Linked DNA regions of Homo sapiens. The protein of the gene in region 1 interacts with the protein of each later gene in a biochemical or structural test. Each region holds a gene or a part of one and is shown on either strand. Other genes may lie near its edges.

Evidence for each region. The genes of interacting proteins can lie anywhere in the genome.
Region 2: the proteins of PAIP2 (region 1) and UBR5 form a complex in vitro, tested with the Homo sapiens proteins (2 studies listed by BioGRID and IntAct, with this or other methods).

Annotation. Positions count from the first base shown.
Region 1 is NC_000005.10:139,358,125-139,363,451, reverse strand, and holds part of PAIP2 (polyadenylate-binding protein-interacting protein 2), read right to left. Parts: intron 1-5,327. UniProt on the Homo sapiens protein: Acts as a repressor in the regulation of translation initiation of poly(A)-containing mRNAs. Its inhibitory activity on translation is mediated via its action on PABPC1.
Region 2 is NC_000008.11:102,283,701-102,287,841, forward strand, and holds part of UBR5 (E3 ubiquitin-protein ligase UBR5), read right to left. Parts: intron 3,865-4,141; coding exon 3,733-3,864; intron 2,918-3,732; coding exon 2,660-2,917; intron 2,082-2,659; coding exon 1,813-2,081; intron 1,639-1,812; coding exon 1,427-1,638; intron 1-1,426. UniProt on the Homo sapiens protein: E3 ubiquitin-protein ligase involved in different protein quality control pathways in the cytoplasm and nucleus. Mainly acts as a ubiquitin chain elongator that extends pre-ubiquitinated substrates.

The DNA of each region.
Region 1 (5,327 bases):
ACCAGGCCCAGCTGATTCTTTCAGTTCTTAGTGAGCATCTGTTTATTATTAGCAGGCATCATGAATAGGTGTTAGAGGCAGATGATACATTAAAAATACACGGTAAGTTGAATAATTGGAAAGCTTCATGTTTGTTTTTTCCAAATGATTTTAATGTTTTAAGAAACAGGAGAGGACAGCCTAAAACATCTAATGTTTTCTTTTTTTTTTTGAGATAGAGTTTCACTCTGTCACCCAGGCTGGAATGCAGTGGCATGATCTTGGTTCACTGCAACCTCAACTGCCCATGTTTAAGCGATTCTCCCGCCTCAGCCTCCCAAGTAGCTGGGATTACAGGCACGTGCTACCATGCCCAGCTAATTTTTGTATTTTTAGTAGAGATGGAGTTTCGCCACGTTGGCCAGGCTGGTCTTGAACTCCTGACCTCAGATGATCTGCCTGCCTTGGCCTCCCAAAGTGCTGAGATTATAGGTGTGCGCCACCACGCCCGGCCACATCTAATGTTTTCCGATAACAGTAAATGAAGTCCATCAGTTGCTTACATGGACTCTCCAAACCATCCAATTTATATTTTATATTACATATCACTTGCTTTGTAAAGCAAGCATGGTCGGCTGGGTGCAGTGGCTCATGCCTATAATCCCGGCACTTTGGGAGGCGGGGGCAGGTGGATCATTTAAGGTCAGGAGTTTGAGACCAGCCTAACATGGTGAAACCCTGTCTCTACTAAAAATACAAAAAAGGCCAGGCGCGGTGGCTCATGCCTGTAATCCCAGCACTTTGGGAGGCCGAGGCAGGTGGATCACCTGAGGTCGAGAGTTCAAGACCAGCCTGATCAACATGGTGAAACCCCGTCTCTACTAAAAATACAAAATTAGCCGGGCGTGGTGGCACATGCCTGTAATCCCAGCTACTCCGGAGGCTGAGGCAGGAGAATTGCTTGAACCCGGGAGGCGGAGGCTGTGGTGAGCCAAGATTGCGCCGTTGCACTCCAGCCTGGGCAAAAAGAGTGAAACTCCATCTCAAAAAAAAAAAAAAAAAAAAAACACCCAAAAACAAAAAATTTAGCTGGGCATGGTGGTACATGCCTGTAATCCCAGCTACTCAGGAGGCTGAGGTGGGAGAATCACTTGAAACCAGGAGGCAGAGGGTACAGTGAGCCGAGACTGCACCACTGCACTCCAGCCTAGGCAACAGAGGGAAACTCCACCTCAAACAACAACAACAACAACAACAAAAACCAAACACGGTCTGAAAGACTGAGTCATCAAGTGATGAAATGATGAAAAGCAAATTCAATTTTTAAAAACTGACTTCAAAAAGTCCAGGGATTGAAAGTGAAAACTAACAGATTTTTAATAACTTCTTAGGTTCTTCATGTATATAGCTCTGGATCTCTCCTTGATAGCCCATATTCTGTGTCTGCTTTTTCTCTAGGTCCATGTCAAGTTCTTCCATGTCTGGAGTTCCTCACTGTACAGTGAGTTTCAGGCATCTTTTTTTTTTTTTTTTTTTTGAGACAGGGTCTCACCCAGACGAGTGCAGTGGCGTGATCTCAGCTCACCGCAACCTCCGCCTCCCAGGCTCAAGCAATTCTCCTGCCTCAGCCTCCAGAGTAGCTGGGATTACAGGCGTATGCCATTATCACCTGGCTAACTTTTGTATTTTTAGTAGAGACTGGGTTTCACCATGTTGGCCAGGCTAGCCTTGAACTCAAGACCTCAAATGATCCACCTGTCTCAGCCTCCCAAAGTGCTGGGATTACATGCATGAGCCATCGCGCCCAGCCCAGTATCTTTTCACCTGAGTAAAAGTAGTATCAAATACAAGCCTGATGTCTTATACTACTCAATAGCTGATAACATGATCTAACCTAATTGATACATTGCAGGCTAAATATCTGAAGCACAAGGTTTCACATTCTAAAATATTCCAATTCATTAAGTTTGAAATCACTAAAAATAGATTTACATAAAACAATTCACCTGTACGTAAACTCAAGCAGTATAGTGACTTGTGCCAAAGAAAGGCTTATTGAGGTCTGCTTACCTCACATTTGTCATAATCAAGTAAAACACTAAATCTAAAATCTCCTACTGGAAATATATGTATTTTTTTCCCTTTGGGATAAGTTTCAGGGAAAAGATGAACCCTATGTGTGTTGCCTGGCCCTTTAAATTTTATGGACTTATCCTTAAGAGGACATAAGTGTAATAAAAATCCATAGCTGTTCATGTAATATGACAAATACTAGATACTAATGACAACAGGATCATAGTGGTGAAAATTTTAATTGTTGAGAGGTCCTCAACTAAAAATTTCTGGGAACTTCTGTCCTAGTTATAGTATGTATATCTATAAAAGAAAGGCAGGCCGGGCACTGTGGCTCACTCCAGTAATTCCAGCATTTTGGGAGGACAAAGCAGGCGGACTGCTTGAGCCCAGGAGTTCGAGACCAGCCTGGGCAACATAGAGAACCCCATCTCTACTACAAATACAAAAAATTAGCTGGATGTGGTGGTGCATGCCTATAATCCCAGCTATCTGGGAGGCTGAGGCAAGAGAATCACTGGAACCTGGGAGGCAGAGGTTGCAGAGAGGCAAGATCACATCACTGCACTTCAGCCTGGGCAAGAAAGCAAGACCCTGTCTCCAAAAAAGAAAAAAAAAAAAAGAAAGGCAGGAAGAAACAAACTGGGTGCGGCTCATGCCTGTAATCCCAACACTTTGGGAGGTCAACAGGGGTGGATCGCTTGAGCCCAGGAGTTTGATACTAGCCTGGGCAATATGGCAAAGCTGGGTACAGTGGTGCACGCCTGCAGTCCCAGCTACTTGGGAGGCCAAGGTAGGAGGATCTCCTGACCCTGGGAGGTGGAGGTTGCAGTGAGCTGAGATAGTGCCACTGCACTCCAGCCTGGGCGGCAGAGCAAGACCCTATCTTGAAAAACAATAATACAATCAAACAAAAGAAGAAAGGCAGAAACAGACTCAGAGTTATGTGCTATGGTGTTAGTAGAAAGAAAATATGATAATATGATTTGTTAGGAAATTGAGGCACTGTAAAAGCAGACAAGACAGAAAACAGACAATGGATATCTGTTATTTTTATCATTAAACTTGGATGAAAAACTATTTTGATAGCAAGTTTTGACTAAATAATAACCAGTTCCTCTAAAGAAAATAATTAGACTGGGTGCGGTGGCTCCCGCCTATAATCCCAACACTTTGGGAGGCCAAGGCGGGCAGATCACGAGATCGGGAGTTCGAGACCAGCCTGGCCAATATGGTGAAATCCCGTCTCTACTAAAAATACAAAAACTAGCCAGGTATGGTGGCACGCACCTGTAGTCCCAGCTACTTGGGAGGCCAAGGCAGAAGAATCGCTTGAACCTGAGAGGTGGAGGTTGCAGTGAGCCGAGACTGCGCCACTGCACTCTGGCCTGGGCAACAGAGCGCGACTACATCTCAAAAAAAAGAAAAGAAGAAAATTACCCATTTTTTTTTGAGACGGAGAGTACAGTGGTGCAATCTCAGCTCACTGCAACCTCTGCCTCCTGGTTCAAGAGATTCTCCTGCCTCCGCCTCCTGTGTAGCTGGGATTACAGGAGCGTGCCACCATGGCCGGCTAATTTTTTTGTATTTTTAGTAGAGACAGGGTTTCACCACGTTGGCCCGGCTGGCCTCAAACGCCTGACCTCAAGTGATCCGCCCACCTCAGCCTCCCAAAGTGCTGGGATTACAGGCATGAGCCACCGTGTCCGGCCGAAAATTACTCATTCTTATATGGCAGGCTACCAAACTGCTTACTGTTAAATAATTACATTTTAGATATTCCTCTAACACTGTGAATGGCTGGGATTGATCCTGCCTCACAACTGGATGGAACTTTGGTTAATCTGCATCTGAACCTTATCATTAAGTTAGGTACAAAGACACCCCAATATAAACAGGTTTTCATTATTTTCCCAATTTGTATCCTGTCCCAACTTATGCCCATAAAATCCTACTTTTCACACCGGGCACTGTGGCTCATGCCTGTAATCCGAGCACTTTGGGAGGCTGAGGCGGGCAGATCACTTGAGGTCAGGAGTTTGAGACCAGCCTGGCCAACATGGCGAAACCCTGTCTCTACTGAAAATGAAAAAAAATTAGCCGGGTGTGATGGCGCACACCTGTAATGCCAGCTACACAGGAGGCTGAGGCAGGAGAATCACTTGAACCCAGGAGGTAGAGGTTCCAGTGTGCCAAGATCGCGCCACTGCACTCTCCAGCCTGGGAGACAGAGTAAGACTCTGTCTCAAACAAATAACTTAGCTGGGTGTGGTGGTGCACGCCTGTGGTCCCAGATACTCAGGAGAGTGAGGTGGGAAGATCATATTAGCCCGAGGTCAAGGCTGCAGAGAGCCATGATCGCACGCCACTGCATTCCAGCCTGGGCAACAGAGCAAGACCTCGTCTCAAAAAAAGAATTTACTGTTTTAAAGTGTTTGATTCAGTGGTTTTAACACACCACCATTACCTAATTCCAGAACATTTTCACCACCCCAAAAGGAAACTCCATACCCATCTGTAGTCACTCTCCATTTCCCAAGCCCCCCAACTTGGACAACCACTAGTCTACTTTCTGTCTCTATAGATTTGCCTATTCTGAACATTGCATATAAATGGAATCATAAAATATGTGTCCTCTTCTCATGTCTGGCTTCTTTCACTTATTACAATGTTTTCAAGGTTCACCTATGTTGTAGCATGTATCAGCATTTCATTCCTTTTTATTGCCAAACAATATTCCATTGTATAGAGATACACATTTTATCTACTCTGATTAATGAGCATCTGCAGTCGTTTCCACTTTTTGGCTATTAATAATGCTGTTATCGGTATTTGTGTACAAGTTTTTATATGAGCACGTTTTCAGTTCTCTTGAATATATACCCAATGTGTTCAATGCTAGTCAGTCTTTTAGCTATACATTTTCAACTGTGATAGAAAAAATGAGTAAAAAAGGTAGCTGACTCCCTCCCCACCACCAGACACAATCCTCACTCCCAATCCTTTTCCCAAAAGTAAGCACTGCTAATGTGGTATATATTTTTCTTAAAAAGTAAACACATATGCAACAATAGTATTGCATTTAAGGGCCTTACAGTCATCATCTATTTAATACTCACAAGTCCTGTGGATGTAGGGATTATGGTCAAATTCATTTCCATGACAAAGAACTAAGTCTTAAGTAACTTGTTCCAGGTTACACAACTAGTGAACAGTGGAGCTGAAATTCAAGTCAAGGTAGCCTGACTCTAAAACATGCACCAGGGCCCAGCACT
Region 2 (4,141 bases), on another chromosome or scaffold:
CAATTCTGCACATTTGACATTTCTACCATTTTTTTTCCCCCAGTTCTCACATGTTCAAAAGCAAGTTTGTCCATTATACTACTCTTAGGTTTTTCTCTTTAATTTTCCTATTAGTTACTCAGGATCAAGGTTTAAATATAAATGATGCCCCTGCTACTTAATCCCTCAACAAGGCCCTAAATTCTGTTTTTTATTTCAATGCTTCTCTCCCCTCCTTTTGGTCTTCACTGCCCTACTTTAGTAACTATTACCTCTACTGTAGATGCCTATCACTGTCTTTCTAAGTAATCTCTTAGACCTTTGTCTTTCCTCACTTTATGATCTGCCCAGAGTAACAAAGTTGTTTATCCTGAGGTAGAGACAGAACCAAATCCTTGGATTTTGACTTCAGGTATGAGGCACTTTTACTATATTACTGCTATTGCTCTGATGTTCAATATTTGAGCTGATACCTACTCCTGAAAAAGGTCACTTTATAACTGAATAGAAAGAACATAACAAATACATAGATATATATTTTATTTTAATTCAACAGACTAGGGGAGGCAGAAAAAAAGAAATGTGATTTGAGAAAAAAAGAGCAGCACTGGTAATCACACATACTTTCCCCCTCCTGAGTACAAAGTACATTCATAACCAATTATAGTCAAAATAACTTCCTAAGAGGAGAGGGGGAGGTCTTGGGGATAATGAGACAAAGATATAGACCAATAACTTCAAAAATAAAAAGGCTTTAGTATCAGATTCCTACGATATGAATGGATTTTTAAAAACAGCTTGGATGATAACTAGCCTATTCTGCCTCAACAATTTAAGTAATGCAAGCAAGTCATTTCTTTCTCCCTTCACAGTAAGATGAGGTCTTACATAATAGCAACTAAAAAGCTTTAACCTTCTAGGATACAAAGATTCTATCTAAACATGCAAGTATAGATACTCCTTGACTGAAGATGTGGTTATGTCCTGATAAACTCATCATAAACGCATAAAGTCTAAACGCATTTAATACCCCCAATAAACCCATCACAAAGTCAAAAAAAAAATGTAAGTTGGGGGTCGGGCGCTGTGGCTCACGCCTGTAATCCCAGCACTTTGGGAGGCCAGGGTGGGCAGATCACAAGGTCAGGAGATCAAGACCACCATGGCTAACACAGTGAAACCCCGTCTCTACTAAGAAAACAAAAAATTAGCCGGGCGTGGGTGGCAAGTGCCTGTAGTCCCAGCTACTCGGGAGGCTGGGGCAGGAGAATGGCATGAACCCAGGAGGCGGAGCTTGCAGTGAGCCGAGACGGCACCACTGCACTCCAGCCTGGGTAAGAGTGTGAGACTCCGTCTCAAAAAAACAAACAAACAAACAAACAAAAAATTGTAAGTTGAGGATCCATTTTAAGTTGGGGACGTTCTGTATATATGAAGAATTTCATACCGTCTGCCTTCAAGTGTTCGTAAGCTAGCTTCTTCTCGCGCAGTCATCCTCTCTCTTCTCGCTGAATTCTGAGAAGCGTGAAGAGGATGATTTGGATGTCCAGGATCACCAGCAGATGCTAATGCAGAACCATAACGTAATTGAGCTTCAGTAGAATCCATAATACTGACCATCCAGTTCCAAGTGGGAATAAGCTTTTCTTCTACATAGTTCTATGAAGACCAAACTAAAATAGTTAAAACTATCCAAATAGAGCTAAATTCGATACAGCAGCAGTATGTCAATATGTAAACGTTTCTAACATTTAATTCCCCTAATACTGGAATTCTCATAATTGACAGCCAAAAAAAAATAGTGGAATGGGAAACTTTTCAGTGGTTTCATACCTGTAAGTTTACTGCATCTTGGTAAGTCAATTTCACAGCTGCTGGAATCTGAGAGTATACTAGGTGATTATACTTAGGAATAAGGCCCATCAAGTCCGAGATTTGTCTAATGACAATGCTGTAAGCCCTGGCTAAACTGCTTGCAGATGTTAGGTAACTGCTGGCGTTGCTAGCTTCCAAAGCAGCTGCTGCAGCTGCAGCACTTGTACTGATGGTACCACTCCGGCGTAAGTTTGAAGGATCAATATAAATCAAACCCGCTGAACTTGCTATAAGGAAAAAGGACAACCACAATGAGCTAATGTCAGTTGCTAATTGTGTTTCTCTGGGATTATATATACTTACGTAAATCTAAATGGTCAATTGTGGTACCCAAGCAAAAAACTTTGCCTAAACCACACTATTTTGGGGAGAGGAGTATGGAGGGGACAAGAATTAATATAAAGTTCTCAACCAGGGGAAATCTGACCCCCACGCCACCTCCCCCCGCCAAAGGGGCTACACATTTGGCAGTATCTACAGACATTCTTGGTTATCACAACTGTGGGAGCCAAGGGGAGGGGAAGAAGGGTGAGAGGGGTTTCACTGGCATCTAGTGGGTGTAGGCTAGGGATGCTGCCTAACATCCCACAATGCACAAGACAGCCTCCCACAATTACCCAGTCCAAAGATGCAATAATGCAAAGACTGGGAAACCCTGCTATAATCATATGTACATATTTTTTATATTTGAAACTCAACAAAACAATGAGGAACTATCATAAAACTAATTTTATCCCCAGATGAACATGCATAATTTAAAAAATCTATCTAAGTATTCTTAGCAATACTAAGTTTTCAGACTTGCCTGCTGGTGTAGATGTACTGGAAGGGGCTGTACTGGCTGCTCGCTGATGCTGGGTGTTGCGGACAGCCCACTGCATTGAACGGGGAGCTTGGGCAGCACCATTGGCATGGGAGCTATTTGTGGTTCTTTCTAATGGCTCATCAAGCATAAAGGTCTCCTGTTCTATGTCGTCACTCTGACTACTACTGCTATCAGAATCACTTGAGTCATTCGATTGAGAATCATCTTCAGAAAAGAAGGCAGGAACACTGCTTGCTCCTAAAATTTTTATTTTTAAAACCAAAAACATTGTGAGTTTAATAATTAAAATTACAATGTACCCCCTCATTCAGGAAAACATACATATTAAACAGAATGCCAGATTGTATTCAATAATCCACAAAACCTACCATAAAATAGTTTTTATTAGAAAATAACTTTCAAGCCCAGCTCTGTGGCTCAGGCAGGACTGCAGTGGCACCATGTCGGCTCACTGCAGCCTCTGCCTCCTGGGTTCAAGCTATTTGTATGCCTCAGCCTCCTGAATAAGTAACTTTTAGCTGGGTGTGGTGGCACATGCCTATAATCCCAACAACTGAGGAGGCTGAGGTGGGAGGACTGCTTGAGCTCAGGAGCTCAAGACCAGCCTGGGCAACACAGTAAGATCCCAACTCTTTAAAAAAAAAAATTAGCCCGATGTGGTGGCTTGCACCTAGTAGACCCAGCTACTCAGGGGGCTGAGGTAGGAGCTCAGGAGGTCAAGGCTGCAAAGAGCTCTGACTGCACCACTGGAATATCCAGCCTGGTGACAGAATGAGACCCAATTTAAAAAAAAAAAAAAAAAAAAAAAAGGCAAGAAAATAAAAATCTTTTAAAGAAACTTTAAAATTCATTCATTATTTAATGACCAGAAAAGCTGGAGAAAGAGTTATTAAAATAATACTTTCTTTTCTAATACCCAGAGAACAAGGATGAAGTTATAAAAATGCTTAGCTACCCTTGCGTATATCACACAAAGTATGACCCAATCCACGCTGAATACACACACACAGCCTTAGCATAAGCAAGAAAGTAGTTGGGATAAGGCAACATACCTGCTTCTGAACCAGCAGTTGCTGCAGTGACAACGCTTCTGCGCCCACTAGCATTATCTTGGTTGCTGTGGTTACTTTCACTATCACTTTCTGTTTCAGCTGCTGCTAACAAGTCCAGCTCCATATCACTCCCTAAAAAATACATTTAAATAAGAAAAAAGCACAAACTCACTATGGTTTAAAACAGGGTCTGATAAGCCAGAATATCGTAAGGGTGGGAACTAAGAAGGCATAGGGGGTAGGAGTTGGGGAGAAGGGGAATGGTGTGAAAGAGAAGGGATAACTACTAAAATAAGACTAAGTAACTACTCAACCTTAGAAGAATGGCTAGGGAAATTATGGTAGTCAACAGACTAGTACATCAGGGCAGTGCAGGGGAGGACTGAAAGTAAATATACAAGCTATTAGC